Regions from separate parts of the Homo sapiens genome. Here all the other regions are linked to region 4. Evidence: fine-mapped expression QTL. A gene starts in region 4. Each other region holds a variant in brackets. All regions are shown on one strand. Distances are from middle to middle.

Region 1 (5,230 bases), 540 kb before region 4:
TCCATCTCCAGGCTCTTGATGTTATCCACCCACAACCCCCCACTTCTCTCAAAAGGATCCTGGTTTGGACAATACATTATGATTATTGTATTTATACTGTGTGAGTCTGCTGCTAACTTGCAAATATGTCTCCATTGCCTTAGAAACGAAAGTCCTGCCTTTCCAAAATTGAAAATTCCAAACTCTTTCCTCTACCGCTCACCTGCTTTCCCTCACCTCCAATTCAACCACCACTCAAATCAATCTCCTTGTCTCGCCTCCTGAAAAACTGAGGCTACTAACCATGAGCTCCTTTATCATCTCTCCTCTCCTCCTCAGAAGATTTCTGTATCATCACTTATATTTTATGGCTTTGGGAGCAGCAAAACCAGGGTTCAAATGCCTGATCCGCCCACCATGTAGTGGCTGTGTAAGCTTGGGCAAGTTTCCATGTCTACAAATTGAAAACCACCATTTCTATGCCACAGGACAGCTGGTATAATTAAGAATGAATACAGCACTTGATGAGGCTCACCTGGTAAGAGATAGAGGCAAGACAGCTGTCTTTCCTCTATCTCTTCCATGTCTCAGCAGCTTCCCCGGCCTACGCTCGCTGTCTTATTTCTCTCTACTCTGTGTAGGGACTTGATCCTGCAGTTAGCCCCCCTTACTCCAAGACCATTTGTGGTCGTCTCATTGTTGTGGTTTTACCCTTAAAATCTATCAAGCCTCTAATTCTCCTATCCCGAATAATCCCTCTTGAGCTACAACTCTCTTGGCTTGGTCTCATATTTCACTTCTGAAATGACTGTGAAGAGTCTTCTGCTACCAGCTGACGGTATGTCACAGCCTAACATCTCCTTAATTAACTGTCATCTGGCTGATATTCTGATCATTCTATAATACTTGAGAAAGCCCTGCCTCATGATCTAGTATATCACCACCACACACCCTTTCTAAGACATCTCTTTGATACTTGAATCATGATGCTGCCCTTTCTAGAAACGACGCTACTGCAGGGTAGCGTCCTTATGCTCACTCAAGCCCTTCCATCACCCCAACCTCTCTTTCTGCACCTAATACGCTATAAAGATAAGATTAAAATAATTTAAAAAGGCGGGCCACGGTGGCTCACGCCTGTAATCCCAGCATTTGAGAGGCCAAGGCAGGTGAATCACTTGAGCTCAGGAGTTCAAGACCAGCCTCGCCAACATGGCAAAACCCCATCTCTACTCAAAACACGAAAATTAGCTCAGTGTAGTGGCAGGTGCGTATAATCCCAGCTAACTGGGAGGCTGAGGCAGGAGAACTATTGGAACCTGGGAGGCAGAGGTTGCAGTGGGCCAAAATTACACCACTGCACTCCAGCCTGGATGACAGAATGAGACTCTACTGAAATAATAATAATTATTATTATTTAAAGAGTTCGATGATGAAATAGGTGTAGAAGACTTTGCTTACTATTTCCCTTTTTAGAGATTCTTACTGTATGTTAACAGATTAAAGGCTCTTCGAAGAGTTCTGCAGGAAAGAATACTTACCTGCTCAATAATTACCGATTGATTAGTAACACCCATGAAGTACTTACTTTTATTAATATTTGACTTTTTATTGTACAAATGTCTCTTCAAGTTGTTCCTAAGCTACTAGCAAATAAAATTTGTGTTACGTATTTTTTATTTGCCTCCCAAAGCCTGTTTTCAGACATGGACATAGTATTAATATATATCCATTATAAACCAGACTGCAAGGTCACTTAAATATTTTTGTTTTTTAAAAAATTAATTTACACTACGTTTGTCTGAAATGAACAGGAAAGCAATGAACGATAAAGTTTCTACGACACAACTATTTTCTTTGGCTCTCTCAAATGCCTCATTTCTCCATGTCTTTTTTAATTTTTATTTTTATTTTGTTTTTATTTTTTTGACATGGAGTCTCACTCTGCAGCCTGGGATGAAGTGCAGTGGCACAATCTCAGCTCACTGCAGCCTCCACCCCTGGGTTCAAGAGATTCTCCTGCCTCAGCCTCCCAAGGAGCTGGGATGACAGGCACCTGCCACCACGCCCAGCTAATTTTTGTATTTTTTGTAGAGACGGGGTTTCACCGTGTTGGTCAGGCTGGTCTCGAACTCCTGACCTCAAGTTATCCACCCACCTTGGCTTCCCAAAGTGCTGGGATTACAGGCATGAACCACCGTGCCCGGCCTTTCCATGTCTTATACGACCTGAAGAAGGAAGGAGGTCATCTGCTGGAGCCAGGGGCCATGCTCGCTCCATTCAATGCATGATCACATGTAAGCTTTCTGTGAAACAGATATGACTATACACATTTTTACCAATTATAAACTGAGGCTCAGAGTCACCCACCAATGAAGTGACAGAGTCTGCATTCAAATGTAGGTCTGCTGATTCTAAAAATCTGTGATTTTTGCACAAAATGGCAGCCTTTACCAATAGTGAGGTGAGTGGAAGTGACATGCAAATGCAGCAGGTGGGAAAAGAGAGTGCCCAAGAAGAGAAAACTATTTGTCCAGTGGCTGGAATGATGAGCCTTTGCCAAGAGCATTGTGAGGCAGAGAAATTATAGCTACCAGCTGCCAACTCCCAATCTTGGGCCATAGAGAAAAGAGGAGAAAAAGATACAGAAGAAAAGGAAAACTGAACAAAGAAACAAAAAGTAATATGCTCAAATTGCCTCAGCTGCTGCAAAGCTATTTGCCCTAGGGAAAAAAATAGACTGTTTTTCCTGCCTTGACTTAGTGCTGATCACCTGGTATCATGAAAATTCGACCAGACTATGCCAGGCAGTTTGTCTACTGCAAAAGATGATGAGAGAAAAAACTATAAGCTTCCATTGGAGCCACAGACTGTGTTTTATACTTTTCTCCCATGTCTGTTTCTGCTTCCTAACAATTAAATACATGAGTGTTTATTGAATGCCATTTGAATGAATGAATGAAAATAGGTTTATGTCAGAGAGCTATTTAAATTCCCTACCACTCCTTAATTAGTTACTGCAGCCACAAAACCTTTGAGAAACAAGGCAGGTATACATTTATAAGTAAAATTATTTCCAAATTGGTATTCTGAAAAGAAGAAATATATTAACATTGCTTGTGGGTGGTTTAGTACATCCATCATCAAAATGTCAATATTTATACACATATGACTCTAATATTTTGATGGTGCGTTATCATAACATCTAGAATTCACTCAACACTGCC[G/A]TGCCTTCCTGACCTCTACAGCAAATCAAACTGTATCTTGTTGATCTATGTTGAGTGCAAGCTCCACTGATGGAAATAATCTCTTCCTCTACAAGACAGGGGTAAGGTTTCCTATATGTTACATGGTAAGTAAAAATCCAGTACAACGGGAAGCAAATGGCTTGGTGGCCACTCTTCACTAGACAATAGGAAGATAAGGACAGAAATAAAAGAAGAAACCCTTTGTTCTTGGTGCTTTTCACAGAGGATTCTTGGACCCTCTATGAAAACCCAACTCTCTGAGGCTTTTTCTGTGAAATCACTGGCAGATAGGAACTTTTCAGCTAGCACATGTCAAAGCTTCTGCCAGGAATGTAAACTGTACAATAATTTTTTTATGTCTTTAGACACCTAAAACAGAAACCTTAAACACCCAAGTGTCAAAATAAGACAGATAACCCAATAAATTTGCTAGAGCAGGGACAGGGAAAACAAACACAGCCTTCTGTTATACGGATGTCTGTTAGCTCGCTCCGACCACTAGCCTGAAACCTTAGCCTGCCACACGTCTTTCCTGTCGGGCTGTTTATTTAGACTCCCGTAAAGCCTCTCGGCACCCATTTTTAATTTTCAGCTTGCTTCTTGTCAGCTTTCTGAAAAGCATAGCAAGATCCACTGTTTAACAAAAACACACACAAATCAGAGGAGGAGGAGATGGATGGCAGAGGGTAGTGGGTGCAGGCATCCCCCAGTGCACTGTGGGGGGACCACATTCCTGGTCCCATTTGTTTGTAACAGAGGGCAAGGGTTGTCAATCGGGGTCATTCAATCTTGCATGCTTGGATTTAACTATACGGCTGTCCTCATAAGAAAGGTTTGCCTCGTTCGGTGCTATATTCTGCATTCATTCATAAAACACTCTGTAAATGCTCTTTGGAAATGTTAGTTTAAAAAAAAAAGAAAACTTCAGTGGTGCTAGTTCATTTCATTCTGATAGTTTTCTATTCTTGATTAGATGGCTTGAAGAGGCCTCAAGCAATAATCCTGTCCTTCCAAAGAAGGATAATAGACTTTTGAGTTTAAAGATGATCATCAGATATGTTATTTTCCTTAAACGCACCTGATAATCCACCGAGCAGCAACTACTTATCAAGTAATTGTTACAGGCAAAGTGCTGTAGTTAGACCTGAGTAGAGAAAACGTATTTTGTGAACCAAAAATTGGAATTCAGGATTTCATATGGAATAACTGTGGCAAATTCCAACTCAAGAGGCAGTCAGGGAGCTGCAGTATAGGTGCCCCCAATACTGGAATTTATAGGCATTTTGATAACTTCAGCAGGGGCAATATTAAAGACTATTTAAAAGTGGGCTCGTTGCTCTATGAAAGCAAGCCTTATGGTCTGCAAAAGTAAGGGTTATAGTGGGGGATATAACATGGGGGATATAACATTTTTTCATCTCTTCACTGTCTCTCCACTTTTACCCCCATGCATTTGGAAGCAATCTCTCAGTTTCCTAGAAGCCCATAGGATCAATTTATATTTTTTTAGTAGTCATCGATCTCAACAGTGAATAGTAATTTATTCTCGATTATAGTGATTTTCCTAAGAATGTAAGATTTTCAGGAACTGGTGGGCAAAGAAAGAAAAGAAAGGAGTTCTTTTTTTTAAAAAAAAGTAAATTGCTCCTATGATTCCATCACATGTATGTGTGTGTGTGTGTGTGTGCACGTGTGCAATTACACATATATACAGGAAGAGGCAAAAGTCCCAGGTCACATCCAACATATACAATCCTACCCCTTCCTCAGGGATAACCACTGTTAACATATAAAAGCACTATTTTCCTGGATTTATTCTGTGCTTAAATTTGATATACAAGCACATATATGTATATGTGTATATGCATATATGTATATGTCATATACAAATAGCCATACATACATGTATTTCTTTTTCACAAAGATGGGATTCTGCTATATATATAGATATAAAATTTGTTTTTATAATATAATTTGGTTTTATATTAACATTTTATTTTGTA
Region 2 (5,230 bases), 430 kb after region 4:
AAAGTGCAAGGATGGAGAAAATTATTTCACACAATTGATAGCCAAAAGAGAGCTGGGGTAAATATACTAGACAAAATAGACTTTAGGTAAAAAAAAAACTATAACAAGAAGGTCATTATATAATGTTAAAGGGATAATTTCATCAAGAGAATACAACAATTATAAATATATATGTACTCAACATCAGAACACCAAAATATACAAAGCAAATATTAACAGATCTGAATGGAGAAATAGGCAGCAATATGATCATAATAGGAGACTTCAATACCCCATTTTCAACAAAGGATGGATCATTTTGAATGGTTTACAGTAAACCAATGAAGAAGCAAATTTAAAAGATTGAAATCATATCAAGTATCTTTTCTGACTATAATAAAAAATAAAAATAAATTAACAGGAGGAAAATTGGAAAATTTACAAATTGTATATATTATATATATTAAATTATATATATTATCATATATAATATAATGTATTATATATGATAATATATATACACAACATACTCCTGAATAACCAAGAGGTTAAAAAAGAAGTCAAGAAGTATTTTGAAGCAAAAACAGAAACACGACATTGCAAAATTTAAGGAATGCAGCAAAAGCAGTTCTAAGAGGGAGGTTTCTAGTGATACATGTGTACATAAGAAGGAAAGAAAGATTTCAGATAAACCACTTTTCACCTCAAGTAACTAGAAAAAGAAAACAAAGCCCAATGTTAGCAGAAGAAAGGAAATATTAAACAGAGCAGAATCAAATGAGAGAATAAAAAGAAAAATTTTAAAAAATCAACAAAACTAAGAGTGGTTTTTGAAAAGATAAACAAAATTGACAAATGTGTAGCTAGACTAACTGAAAAAAAGGTGGGGGGTGGGGGAGAGAGAGAAGATTCAACTAAAATTATAAATAAAAAAGAGACATAACAACTGATATTTTAGAAATATGAAGGATCATAAGAGGCTACTATGAACAATTATATACCAACAAGTTGAATAACATAGAAGAAATACAGAAATTCTTAGAAGCATACTGTCTACCAAGACTGAATCATGAGAAATAGAAAATATGAACATGGCAATAATGAGTATGGTGTCATAAGCTTTACCTTAAAAAAATTTCTCTTGAATATATTTGGATAAGTGGCACTAATCTATTGTATTGCTTCCAAATAACATTCAGATTAATGCATTTTTATTTCATAAATTCAGGAATAATTTTTTATTCACTAACTTCTTGGTCATTCTTATCAATTTATATATGAACATAAATTAACACGCACGTCTACCAATATCATATCTGTTACACAAACTATGCTGACTAAAAATGTGACAGTCCTAGTTAGAACTGGCAGTGAAGAGTAAAATCAGTTAAAAGTATTATGAAAAATTTTAAATAAAAAATTAAGAGAAAATTTAAATTTCTTTTAAAAAAGGAATTGTTTTAAAATTAATAATAATTGGAGAATTGAATGCAGTTAAAACATCAAAAACATATATAAGTAACATAAAAAGTAAAGCAGAAACCAAAGTTGAGAACTGAGCACATAATGGTGAAAATAATAAATATAAATTGCTTAAGCTTCTGTATTAAAACAAAAAGTATTGATTGGAATAGTGTCAATAGGATTGGTATAAATTCTTTTTTGAATGTCTGATAGAATTCAGCTGTTAATGTGTGCGGTCCTGGACTTTTTTTGTTGGCAATTTTTAGATTACCACTTCAATCTTACTGCTTGTTATTGGTCTGTTCAGGGTTGCTATATCTTCCTCGTTTAATCTAGGAGGGTTGTGTATTTCCAGGAATTTATCGATTTCCTATGTTTTCTAGTTTATGCACATAAAGGTGTTCATAGTAGCCTTGAATAATCTTTTGTATTTCTGTGGAATCAGTAGCCATATCTCACATTTCATTTCTAATTGAGCTTATTTGGGTGTTCTCTCTTCTTTTCTTGGTTAATCTAACTAATGGTCCATAAATTTTATTTATCTTTTCGAAGAACTAGCCTTTTGTTTCATTTATCTATTGTATTTTTTTGTTTCAATTTCATTTAGTTCTCCTCTGGTCTTTGTTATTTCTTTTCTTCTGCTGGGTTTGGGTTTGGATTGTTCTTGTTTCTCCAGTTCCATGAGGTGTGACCTTAGATTGTCTATTTGTGCTCTTTCAGACATTTTGATGTAGGCATTTAATGCTACGAACTTTCCTCTTAGCACCACTTTTGCTGTATCCCGGAAGTTTTGATAGGTTGTGTCACTATTATCATTCAGTTCAAAAAATTTTTAAATTTCCATCTTGATTTCATGGTTGTCCCAATGATAATACAGGAGCAGGTTATTTAATTTGCATGTATTTGCATGGTTTTGAGGGTACCTTTTGCTGTTGATTTCTAATTTTATTCCACTATGGTCCGATAGAGTACTTGATGTAATCTCAATTTTCTTAAATTTACTGAGACTTGTTTTATGACTTATCATATGGTCTATCTTGGAGAATGTTCCATGTGCTGATGAAAAGAATGTATATTCTGCAGTTGTTGGATAGCATTCTATCCTGTATTCTATAAATATCTGTTAAGTCCATTTATTCTAGGCTATAGTTTAAGTCCATTTTTTCTTTGTTGACTTTCTGTCTTGGTGACCTGTCTTGTGCTGTCAGTGGAGTATTAAAGTCCCCCACTATTATTGTGTTGTCATTTATCTCATTTCTTAGGTCTAGTAGTAATTGTTTTATAAATTTGGGAACTCTAGTTTTAGGTGCATATATATTTAGGATTCTGATATTTTCCTGTTGGACTAGTCTTTTT[A/G]CCATTATATAATTTCCCTTTTTGTCTTTTTTATCTGCTGTTGCTTTAAAGCTTGTTTTGTGTGATGTAAGAATAGCTACTTCTGCTCACTTTTGGTGTCTATTTGCACGGAATATCTTTTTCCACCCCTTTACCTGAAGTTTATGTGAGTCCTTATGTGTTAGGTGAATCTCCTGAAGACAGCAGAAACTTGATTGGTGAATTCCTATCCATTTTGCCATTCTAATATTAGTACTGAGGTGTAAGGGACTATTCTATTCATCAGCCTGTTTGTCGCTTAAATACCTTTTTTTTTCATTGTGTTACTGTTATATAGTTCCTGTGAGATTTATGCTTTAAGGAGGTTTTAGCTTGGTGTTTCAAGGATTTGTTTCAAGATTTAGAGCTCTTTTTAGCAGATCTTGTAGTGCTGGCTTAGTAGTGGTGAATTCTCTCAGCATTTGTTTATGTGGAAAAGACTATCTTTCCTTCATTGATGAAGTTTAGTTTTGGTGGATACAAAATTCTTGGCTGATAGTTGTTTTTTTTTTAAGGAGGCTTAAAATATGACCCCAATCCCTTCTAGCTTGTAGAGTTTCTGCTGGGAAATCTGTCGTTACTCTCATAGGTTTCTTCTTTACAGGTTACTTGATGCTTTTGCCTCACAGCTCTTAAGCTTCTTTCTTCATCTTGACTTTAGATAACCTGGTGACTATGAGCCTAGATGATGATCTTTTTGAGATGAATTTGTCAGGTGTTCTTTGAGCTTCTTGTATTTGGATGTCTAGGTTTCTACCAAGGTCAGGGAAGTTTTCCTCAACTGTATTTTCAAATATGTTTTCCAAACTTTTAGATTTCTCTTCTTCCTCAAGAACACCAATTATTCTAAGGTTTGGTCATTTAACATAATACCAAACTTCTTGGAAACTTTGTTCTTTTTTAAAATTCTTATTTATTTGCCTTAGTTGGATTGGGTTACTTCAAAAACCTTGTCTTAGAGCTCTGAAGTTCTTTCTGTTGCTTGTTCAATTCTATTGCTAAAACTGCATTTCTCTAAGTGTGTCCTTGATTTCCAGAAGTTGTGATTGTTTTTTATTTATGCTATTTCCCTGAAGATTTTCCTTTCATATTCCATATCATATTTTTTATTTCAAGGAGCAGAATACTATTTTTGGATGTCTTAACACAGGAAAAGGAAATAGAACTCTGTGTGCCCAGTTCCTTTACCTGTAAAATTAAGATAACCATAGTCCTACCTCGTAAAATTGTGGCAAGGATTAATTGTTTAATTTATATAACACACTCAGAATGATTCCTGGCACTTAACTAAGGGTACTTAAACGTTAGCTCTCCTATTTGAAACTGATTGGAGGATTATTCCCTAATGTGCTAGTTCTGCAGGAAAGTGAGTTAATTTCAAGAAAACTGGCCAGGGAACATTTTAATGCCAGCTCAACTACTCACAATGGAGAGGCAGAAATAGCCATTCACTTGGTGACTGAAGCAAGCATGTTGCAGCAAAGATCCCAGGGTATAGACAGAAGCACTGCTACCTGGCACACACACACCAGCTGTCTACAATGGCACACTTTACTTTCCTGGTTTCTTGGTTCTGTCTACCATTTGAGGAGCTAAAAGCTTTCACCAGAATAACACAGGCATCTTTCAGGAAGCCAGAAAAAGGATCCTGTGCTCTGTGAAGATAAGCTGCACTCTCCTCAGGCACGTGCCAGGCAAGAGAGGAATCCCCGCTCCATTCTTCAAATCCAATTTGTCAACTCACATTTAGTTCCCTTTTCACTTGTTGCATCATTCTTATTGTTATTTTTGCACCATCCGGTTCACTGTACAGTCCCTGTGCAGTCATTGTACAGTCCCTGTTTATCTATGATGAAATAAAACTGCATTTAGTTGTAAGTTTTAATGGTATGAAGGGTTTTTGGTTTAACTTTAAAGAAGTGCCAGAAACTGCTTCAGAGACAGGAAGCTCCTGCAGAAAACCGATAATAGACATGTTCACCTGTTTGTGGAGGGAATGGAGCTGGTGCTTATTCAGCAGCTGCTGTGTGTTGTCTGTGTATTCTCTTCTTAACTCTAGGCCTGGCTGCATTTATGCCTGAGAGTGGTTGTGAGGATTAAATACGTCCAGCTCAGACAAGTGCTTGATACCGAAAGAGAAAAGTAAACCCAGGCTGGAGGCTCACTGAAGTCTGTATTGGATAGAGCCAATGTGGAGTTTCTCGCAGAGGGAGTCCAGGTAGCACCTGGTAGAAGATGTTGGGTGGGCAGCTGTAGGGGCCAGGGGAAATCTTGCCCTTTGACCTCTGAAGGTTCCGTGAAAATCAATTGACAAAAGGCAGATAGATTAATAGGTGAAAAGGCATACAAATTAATTTTATCATAGTTTTATGTGTCATGGGAGCCTTCAGATTGAAGGGCCAAAGACACCATT
Region 3 (5,230 bases), 32 kb before region 4:
GCAGTTATTTGCTTATTATAGAAATGATAAAATAACTCTAAGGCTGCAACCTAAATAATGATTTTGTCTGAAGCAAAATATGAGCTTGGTGCTACCTCATAAATGGCAGCACAGTACAAAAGTCCTGGAGGGCAGAAAGTGGGAGGACTGGGAGGTAGAACAGAAGTCACACTTAAGGCATTAGTCTCCCATTTGGGAACTCAAACACATAACGTGGATTTTCCAATACCAGACTTAGTTATCTTCAAAAGTTGTTAAACTAATGTCCCGATGTAACCAATATCTCTTTGAGATATAAGCATGAAACAGTTCTATGGCTTCCAAAAACTACCACCACTGTGCTCAGTTGAAATGCTCTTTGTCATTGACTGGCTTTCCTCATCAATGTCTTATCCCATAATGATTAGTTACTCTCAAATATTTATTTATTTATTTATTTATTTATTTATTTATTTATTTATTTATTTGAGACAGGCTGTCACTCTGTCACCCAGGTTGGAGTGCAGTGGCACAACTGTAGCTCACTGCAGCCTCAATCTCCCAGGCTCAAGTGATCCGCCTGCCTAAGCCCCCATTGACCATCCCGCAGCTCCCCACCTCAACCTGAGTAGCTGAGAGTATAGACACGTGCCACCACACCCAGCTGATTTTTGTATTTTTTGTAGAGATGGAGCTTTGCCATGTTGCCCAGGCTGGTCTTGAACTCCTGGCCTCAAACTATCCTCACGTCTAGGCCACCCAAAATATTGGAATTACAGGTGGGAGCCACCGTGCCTGGCCTACTCTCAATTATTAAAGTCATCCCCTTTAGGCTGTAAAGTGCTGTTTGCTTTAGTTTATCTTACAATATTTACAATTCTTTTTGTACCACATGACTCAACATGTACAAAGTGCAAAAAGGCTCTATAAATTAGCCAGGTGTTTTGGCACATGCCTGTAATCCCAGCTACCCAGGAGGCTGAGGCAAGAGAATCACTTGAACCTGGGAGGTGGAGTTTGCAGTGAGCCTGGATTGTGCCACTGTACTCCAGCCTGGGCAGTAGAGCGAGACTCCATCTCAAAAAAATAAACAAAAAAAAGCCTCTATGGTGAAGAGACTTCTTCCCATCCTTTACTCACAGATCTTTCCTTTACTCTTGGTTATGAAGGTTATGCAGTGCACAACTCTAGAAGGCTCGATACACTTTGCATTTATAACAGTATTTCTCAACATTTGATGCAATTAAAAAATAATTGAGAGTCCTCTTTAAAGGTAGATTATGATTCAGTAAGTCTGGGATAGAAGCTGAGATTCTGCATTTCCAAAAAACTCTCAGGTAATGCTGATGCTGCTGGTCTGGAGACCACACCTTTGAGTAGCAAGAGCCTATGTAATTGATGCCTCTGGAAGGTTGTAATTCCATCATGTGTGGCCTTACATGGAAGCCCTACGTTGTTTGCCTCCCCCAAGGTTTGCAAGTTTTATTTTATTTTATTTTATTTTATTTATTTTATTTATAATGGAGATGAGGTTTCTTTCACTATGTTGTCCAGGGTGGTCTCAAACTCCTGGGCTTAAACAATCCTCCTACCTCAGCTTCCTGAGTAACTGGGACTACAGGCATGAGCCACCATACCCAGCTCCCAAATTTTCAATATTCTTCCAAACATGTTCTACGTGTATGTAAGCATATACATACATAAATATATATTTAATTATATACACATATGATAGCATATTACATACATTGTACTACATTTTGTTCTCCACCCATTACCCTTCCCCAACTTAATATGACTTGGAGCCTGTTCCATACTGGTAAGTGTAGAGCTGCCTTGTCTTTTTAGTGATAAAATATTATTACATTGCACAGTGTAACTGTCCTTTAGGAAATGAGTTTTCAAATGGCAGGAAAGCAGGCGACCCCTCTGACACGCTTGGTCTCAGCTCTGCCTCCCTCTCCCTCTGACACTTGTCTTCTTGTTCCAGCAGCATCTGGCCTGACACATCTATCCCACCTCTCCCCCATTGAAGAGATAAAAACGGGAAGACATGGTTACACCACAGTTCTGTACTTCCCTGAACAGATGACCAAGATTAGTCAAACCTTGTATGTAAGTGTCTGGTGCTACAGCCGGCAGTTTACTGACTTAATATATTGCATCTGTTTTCAGCTATGGGGTCCAAGAATATATAAAAGATACATCTAGGCCCTGTTCACCACCATTTTACATATACTAGTTATGATCCATTTGGCATACCTCTCTCCATTTTTTTTTTAAGATAGGATCTTGCTCTGTTTCCCAAGCTGGAGTGCAGTAGCATGATTCCAGCTCACTGCAACCTTGAACTCCTGGGCTCAAGTGATCCTCCCATCTCAGCCTGGAGTAGATAGGAC[T/C]ATACCCAGATAATTTTTTTTAATTATTATTTTTTGTAGATGTGAAGATCTCACTGTGTTGCCCAGGCTCATCGTGTAATCCCGGCTTCAAGCTATCCTCCCACCTTGACTTTCCAAACTTTTGGGATTACAGGCATGAATCATTGCACATGGCCATGTTATATTTTATATTCACCATTATTATATTATAATTATGTTATAATTATAATATTTTATATATATAATATATATTTATATAAAATATATAATATTATATATATAATTATTTTTATAATTATATATAAAATATAATTATTTTTATAATTATATATAAAATATAATTATTTTTATAATTATATATAAAATATAATTATATTACAATTCACCATTTTATATTCAGTTATTATTACTATTGGTGGGGTGAAAGAAGAACTATATATTTCTTATGTTCTTTCAAGAACCTTTACTAATCTATTTGTTAGTAATAGCATTGATAAATTATTACAGAGAGATGGATAAATCATGTGCCAATGGGCTAAAATATGGATAGGGCCAGATTCTAGAATGGCTCTATTAGTAGTAAAATTCTGGTATTCAGAAAATCCTTTAACTTTGCAGTGCCCTAGTATAGAACCATTAGCTGAGAAACAAAAGTATACAGAGAAAAGAGTTAAGATTACTAAGGTACAGTATTATTTCTCATTCATTATTACCTTTTAATATATTAACTCTGGAAGTTTTTTCAATCTGATGGTTTATCATTTTGGCTGATTAGAAGCATACCTTGGACATATTACAGGTTCAGTTCCAGATCACTGCAATAAATATCAGAATAAAACAAGTTACAAGAATTTTTTTTCCCAGTGCATGTAAAAGTTATATTTACATTATACTGGAGTCTATTGAGTTTGTAACAGTATTATGTCTAAAAAAAAGTACTTACCTTAATTAAAAACACTTTATTGCTATTAATAAAACACAATATTTATTAATATATTACTAATAAAAATGCTAATAATCATCTGAGTCTTCATTGAGTTGTAATCTTTTTGCTGGAGGAGGGTCTTGCCTCAACGTTGATGGCTGCTGACTGATCCGGGTGGTGGTTGCTGAAGGTTGGGGTGGCTGCAGAAATATCTGAAAACAAGACAACAATGAAGTTTGCTGCATCAATTAACTCTTTCTTTTGCAAAAGATTTCTCTGTAGCATGTGATGCTGTTTGATAGCATTTTACCCACAGCAGAACTTCTTTAGAAATTGGGGCCAATCCTCTCAAACCCTGCTTTCTTTGCTCATCCATAAGAAGCAACTCCTCATCTATTCCAGTTCTATCATGAGATTACAGCAGTTCAGTCATCTTTAGGCTCCACTTTCTTTTTTTTTTTTTTTTTTTTGAGACATAATCTCACTCTGTCGCCCAGGCTGGAGTGCAGTGGCAAGATCTCGGCTCACTGTAACCTCCGCCTCCTGGGTTCAAGCGATTCTCCTGCCTCAGCCTGCTGAGTAGCTGGAACTACAGGCGTGTGCCATCACGCCCGGATAATTTTTTGTATTTTTAGTAGAGACGGGGTTTCACCGTGTTAGCCAGGATGGTCTAGATCTCCTGACCTCGTGATCCGCCCACCTCGGCCTCCCGAAGTGCTGGGATTACAGGTGTGAGCCACCCGACCCTAGGCTCCACTTCTAATTATAGTTATCTTGCTATTTCTGCCACATCTGCAGTGATTTCCTCTACTGAAATCTTGAACCCCTCAAAGTCACCCATGAAGGTTGGAATCAACTTTTTCTAAATTGTTCATGTTGATATTTTGACCTCTTCCCATGAGTCACAAATGTTCTTAATGGCATATATAATGGTTAACCCCTTCCAGAAGGTTTTCAATTTACTTTGCCGAGATCCACCAGACAAATTACTATCTATGGCAGCTGTAGCTTTACAATAACGATAGTAATAATAAAAGAGTTGAAAACTGAAATTACTTCTTGATCCGTGGGCTGCGGAATAGATGTCGTGTTAGCAGGCATAATAGTAACATTCATCTCCTTGTACATCTCCATCACAGCTCTTGTGTAACCAGGTACATTGTCAGTGAGGATGAAAGGAATCTTTTTTTTTTTTTTTTTCCTGAGCAGTAAGTCTTTACACGGGGCTTAAAATATTCGGTAAACCATGCTATAAACAGAAGTGCTGTCATTCAGGCTTTGTGATTTCACTTATAAAACAGTGGCAGAATGGATTTAGCATCATTTTTAAGGGCCCTAAAATTTTCAGAATAGTAAGTATGCATTGGTTTCAAATGAAAGCCATCAGCCCCTAACAAGAGGGTCAACCTGTCTTTTGAAGCTTTGAAGCAAGGCACTGACTTCTCCTCTTTAGCTATAAAATTTCTAGATGGCATATTCTTTCAATGGAAAGGTGTTTCATCTACACTGAAAATATGTTGTTTAGTGTTCCTCCTTCATCAGTGATCTCAGCTAGATCTGGATAATTTGCTGCAACTTTTACATCAGCACTTGCAGCTTCACTTTGCACTTTTATGTTTTGAAGATGACTTCCTTCTTTAAACTTCATGAACCAATCTGCTAGCTTCTAAATTTTCTTCTGCACCTTCCTCATGTGTCTCAGCCTTCATAGAATTGAAGAGAGTTAGAGCCTTGCTCTGGATTAGGTTTTGGCTTTAGAGAATGCTGTGGCTGGTTTGATTTTATATCCTGACCGCCAAAACTTTCTCCGTATCAGGAACGAGGCTGTTTTGCTTTCTTAGCATTCATGTGTTCACTGGAGTAGCTCTTTTTAATTTTCCTCAATAACTTTCCCTTTGCATTCACAATTTGGCTAACTGATGCAAGAGGCCTAGCTTTCAGCCTACCA
Region 4 (5,209 bases):
AGGGGGTGAGCCCATGGACTTCCAGCTTAACCCTAGATCTGCAGTAAAAGCAGTCAAATCGGTTCTAGGCTCCAAGTTTAATGGTCAAGTTTCTCAATCCTGCCCAAAATCTGAATCTAGGATAGGTGTCTGCTGTGGCCTACATGTTTGTGTCCCCCAAAGTTAATGTGTTGAAGCCTAAACTCCAATGCAACAGGATTAAGAGGTGGGGCCATTGGGAGGTGATTAGGTTATGAGGACTCCTGTCGTGCCCTTATAAAAGACGCTTCAGGTAATCTATTTCCCCTTCTATCCTGTGATGATACACAGAAGGCACCATCCATGAGGAATGGAACCTCACCATATTCCAAATCTGCTGGCACCTTGCTTGGACTTCCCGGCTTGCAGAACTGTGAACAATAAATTTTTATTGTTTATAAATTACCCAGTCTAAGATACTTTGTTATAGCAGCCTGAACATAATAAGACGGTGTCAAAAGTAGACTCAATATCATTCTTTAAATGGGCATTTCCCTGTGTGTTCCTAAAACCAGGCTTTCTACAACAGAGGCAGTACGTTTACTCATTGAGCACCAGGGTGCTTGGATTCAAGTTTTGGCCTGGCCATTAGGTAGGTGCATGACCTTGGTCAAGATGCTTCACTTGCTGTACTTCAGGTTCCTTATTTATAAAATGTGGGTAATAACTGTAACTGCCTCATAAAGTTGTTCTGTGGATTAAATAAATTTATATACTTAGAACAGCGCTGTTTACAGAGTTATGTGTTTAATTATAATTTTGACTAATGAGCCTCAAGAAATATAGGAATAGAAGAAAAAATATTAAAATAGTCCTAAAAGAAATACTGGTGCATTTGGAAGACTGAAAGAGAGTATCATCAAAGTCCATAAAAAGGGAATTATAAGCCTTATAAAACTCCTTTGAAGCAAAGGATAACAGAGGTTGAATAACTTTAAGTAGGTTCAATATTGATTGATTGAATGATTGATTGTGACAGTCTCACTCCATCAGAGGCTGGAGTGCAGTGGCGCCACCTCGGCTCACTGCAACCTCCGCCTCCCGGGTTCAAGCGATTCTCCTGCCTCAGCCTCCTGAGTAGAGTAGCCGTGACTGCAGGCGCGCAACCCCACGCCGGGCTAATTTTTGTATGTTTTTTTTAGTAGAGATGGGGTTTCACCACGTTGCCTAGGCTGGTCTTGAACTCCGCCCTCCTCGGCCTCCCAAAGTGCTGGGATTACAGGTGTGAGCCCCCCCACCTGGCCCCAAGATTAATTTAGATAAATTCTTAGAGGGTGAATGCATAGTTGGTTATTGGGAAAACTGTTAACGGTCTGTGATACATAATTACTTTTCTGAGGTGATGGGGAACCAAATTCTTCCTACAAATGAGAAACAGAACTTCTTGTCTACACATTAAAATGACTTTGGAAACTTAGAAAAATATCAATGTCAAGATCTGGCAGCAGACCTTTTTCAACCAAGTGATGAGGCCCAGGCACTTGTTTTTTTATTTTTATTTTTTCCTAAGGGTGCCCCAGGGTTTAGAAACAACTAAGTCAGATATTTTTAGAGTAATTTGTCTTAACTCTTTCATCTTGCGTAAAATTTCCATTCTGTCATCCACAACCGGAATTCCACTCCGTCATACCAGTCTCTCCTCGTTTTTTTCTGCTGGCTCTTTTCAGCGTGTTTCATCGTGGCTGCTGTCTGTCTGTTACAGCCTTCTCACGTGGGAGCCCCTGCCCCGCCCCACGAGAAAATACATGTTTATCATTCAGTAAGTATTGCGCAAAATCGTAACAGAATAATTACTCGCGCCAATTCCCCCCAGATTAGATCAGCAGAAACACTTGGGCTAGAACTACCTCAGGACTATCTAACAAGTGGATATACCACAGTGGCGTGGAGAGCTGCAGTGTTATGTGTTGGCCAAATGAAGTAAAGACACCAAGTAGCTATTAGGCGAAGAACGAAGCGTCTTCGCGGCAAGTCGGCTGTCTGCTTTAAATTTTCTGAATCCTTAATGTTATCAGTATTATTTATTTCCCCCGAGAAACAAAATCTCCAAATACCAAGAAGCTGTTCTGTATTGCCAAAAGCTGCATAGGGGCAGGCTGCCAACAGGACTACCCGGGCACGCTGCAGTGGCATCTCTAGGCAGTTTCCTTTAATCTGATTTTCCTTGGGCTAACTCCTCACTGCGGTGCTGCTCCACAGCCAGCCCCCGCGCGCAGCCCTCCCCGCACCAGCTCGGCTGCAGAGCGCGGGTCCGCCGCCCACGCCGCCTTTCAACCGCAGTGCGCGGCCCGGGCCTTAGACGCGCGTGCGCGCGAGCCGGGGAGGGCGGGCCCCAGCCGGAGGAGGCGGAACAGGGCCTCGCGATATGCAGCCCATTGGCTCTCTCCTGCAGTCCCCGCCCCCGGGCGTTCGAGGCGGCGGGGCGGGCCACGTCAGGCAGCCGGCGCTGGGCTGAGCTTGTGGCAGAAGGGAGGTAAGCCGTGCGGGGCGGCGGGCTGCCACCGCTGCACCCCTGCTCGGGAGCCGCCGGGTCGCGCCGCCTGCGGCCCGGTCGGCTTGCATGGAGGGCGGCTGAGGCCCTGCGGGGCTGGGGCTGAGCTGGGAGACGGGGCAGTGGAGCATGTGGCGGCAGGGCCGCGTCGCGGCGAGGGGCAGCCGGGAGGGGGCTTTTTGCCCTCGTCCGGTCCTGCTGGGGCTCTCAGCTTCTGGAGGACTAGGCCTTCTGAGGTTACGGAGCTCCGAGATACCTGGGCAGGGCTGGCTGTGGTGACTGCGGTGGGACTTAGTGGGATCTCGACTCGGAAGCCGGTCGGCGCGATCCTTGCATACTTAGCTGCAGCAGGTTGCAGTCGTCCCACTCTCCTTCGACCGGTTCCCTAGTTGGGGGCAGAGCAGGAGATTCTGGCCGCGTCCTGCCTGGCCTGGGGTGACTGTCTCCTTCTCATTCCCGGTGACTCACTCAGATCATGTCCACTTATAATGCAAAGGCTTATGGGTGAGCAGGGCCTGTTTTCAGTCTCCTAGTTCTCTGGCTCCGTCCGCACTTGCGGCAATTACTTGAAGAAAGAGTATGTTAGATGTATGTTTTGAAATTTTCGCAGCAGCTAACGCGTGGAGACGTGCAGTTATGTTGCATTTACCCTTCATGAGTTTTAGTTTCAGCTGTGGCGTCCTGATATCTCAGTGTGGTTCCTGAATTTGGAGCTTTTGAAATGAATGAAATCCTGCCAATTTCATGCAGTCATTCATTCATACATTCCAAACTTTTTTGATGGATGCCTTAATGGTCAGCCTCATACCAGGTATTAAAATCGGCATTTCCTGCGTTTTATTCCAGTTTATATGTTAGTTTTATTGTCTAGATTTGAGTTGGAAATTTTTTTTTTTTTTGTTATTTTCAGGTTCTAGTATCCCTGAAACCATCGTGGCTCTGAGGGTGTAATCCTGATAACTGTATCAGTAATGACTCCAGGTTTCAGTGGCCTATCTGTAAGAAGAGGAATGGGATTAGTATAATTTTGAGATTTTCCAGGAGAGGAGGGTAGATGGCATGTTTCCTGAACTGTGTTAACAGGAAGTAACTATTTTAAAAACACAGGATGCATTTTATGATTATGTTTTACTGTGTCAACGAACATTGTATCTGTCCACATTCACTTTTTGACTACCAAGCAAGTGCATGTTTACAATTTTGATTCACATCCAATTCCTGCGTAGAAAGCACTGTGACTCATCTGAATTTTGAAATGAAGTAATCATGAGCTTTTTAATGTTACATACAAAGGTATGATATTGAAACAATTGCATAAAAATGCAATTTTCAAAGCATTTTCACTTGCTTTTATAGATTAGTGGAAGCTAAAACCTCTGCCTTGATTATTTGCTTACTTAATCAATGTTAGGTAGTTACCATCTCTTGGCTAATGTTTATCAATATTATATCTATTTTAACATTTGTTTCATTAACCCCAAATTTACTGGATTTTAACTGATTGTTGTCTCCAGTTGACGCCTGATAACCAAAAGGTTATCAGGAGGAGCTGGAGGAGGCGGAACACAGCCTCGCGCCCTGTAATAAATAGTTTGAAATCAAAATTTTCATGGACGTATAACCAGAGTTTTTCATTTGTTGATTGATTGATGGTGCTTACCGGTAAATCGTTTGGCCTTTTTCCCCGTTTAAAATGATTTATGAAACAGTCTGAGACATAATATTCTTAGCTTCATGATACTTTTGGGATATTGTCCACAAGTGATTAGTTGAATTAAATTGTTAATATCACTATTAGGAGTTTGGAAAATTTAAGAAAATATAACTTCTTAAAATTTTGCATTTGCTATTTTTTTGTTTGTTTGGAGACAGGGTCACTCTGTCGCCCAGGCTGGAGTGCAGTGCTGCGATCTCGGCTCACTGCAACCTCCGCCTCCCAGGTTCAAGTGATTCTTCTGCCTCAGCCTCCTAAGTAGCTGGGATTACAGGCGCATGCCACCACACCCAGCTAATTTTTGTATTTTTAGTAGAGACGGAGTTTCACCATGTTGGCCAGGCTGGTCTCGAAATCCTGACCTCAAGTGATCCCTCCGCGTTGGTGTTACATCTTTCAGTTCTAGAAATGGACCTGATCAAGATTGCAAGGTTAATGGGGAAAATTCAAGAGCTGAGGACATTAACCTTCTAGCGGGAAAAAACCACAATGAGAAATAATAACTATATTTGGAGGAAGTGTAAGGAAATAATAGTTTAAGGATTATTAGTCTATAACAAATCTTGATCTTAATCAGTATTTCTTGATGTATAACAAAGAACTTGGTTTAAGCACAAAAAGAAAATTAGGGTGATAATTTAAATTTTGATCAAGTGGGTAGTAAGTATTTCTTTAGGAGATGAGAAATCTATAGATCTAGAGATGCATGGTATAATAAAGTATGGTATACTTATATGAGTATAAGTCTGTGATTCACAATTAGTAATAGATTGATGGAGGTTTTGTTACTATTTCCACATGATAAGAAACAAGATTTGCTAAGCTGATAGGACAAGGGATATTTGTGAATTTCCTCCATGTAAATGATTTGAAACAACAAAGTTTTAAGTGATGTGGAAGAGCCCATCTATTTTCAAACAATGGATTGAAATGTAGTTTTTGTAACCCTCTAAGTACTTCTGGCCTCATAGTTTTTTTTTTTTTTC

Direction of the effects. Alleles are on the strand shown, and positions count from the first base shown. SD is a standard deviation of normalised expression in the study named. Not every link is listed here.
For the expression in lymphoblastoid cells of the gene that starts at base 2,457 in region 4, G is the low allele of the variant in region 2 and A is the other (large effect, 0.89 SD a copy in TwinsUK).

What was found. PIP is the estimated chance that this variant, and not a neighbour inherited with it, causes the effect.
Region 1: its variant is the best candidate, but not a certain one, in a credible set for the expression of FOCAD in nasal epithelium (TOPMed, PIP 0.62).
Region 2: its variant is the best candidate, but not a certain one, in a credible set for the expression of FOCAD in lymphoblastoid cells (TwinsUK, PIP 0.72).
Region 3: its variant is the best candidate, but not a certain one, in a credible set for the expression of FOCAD in whole blood (INTERVAL, PIP 0.83).

The regions. Positions count from the first base shown.
Region 1 is chr9:20,140,708-20,145,937 of GRCh38, forward strand. It overlaps a transcript of SLC24A2 not described here. Among named protein-coding and RNA genes, the nearest start is that of MIR4473, 270 kb to the right of the region's middle. The variant G/A (reference allele first, on the strand shown) is at 3,207.
Region 2 is chr9:21,114,698-21,119,927 of GRCh38, forward strand. No RefSeq gene overlaps it. Among named protein-coding and RNA genes, the nearest start is that of IFNW1, 25 kb to the right of the region's middle. RefSeq lists an enhancer at 4,294-4,553. The variant A/G (reference allele first, on the strand shown) is at 2,800.
Region 3 is chr9:20,650,085-20,655,314 of GRCh38, forward strand. No RefSeq gene overlaps it. Among named protein-coding and RNA genes, the nearest start is that of MLLT3, 30 kb to the left of the region's middle. The variant T/C (reference allele first, on the strand shown) is at 2,379.
Region 4 is chr9:20,681,803-20,687,011 of GRCh38, forward strand. FOCAD (focadhesin) reads left to right here and starts at 2,457. Exons shown (of 44, transcript NM_001375567.1): 1 at 2,457-2,491. FOCAD-AS1 (FOCAD antisense RNA 1) reads right to left here and starts at 2,948. Exons shown (of 2, transcript NR_121601.1): 1 at 2,766-2,948; 2 at 1,500-1,739. RefSeq lists a silencer at 2,060-2,759 and an enhancer at 2,159-2,899.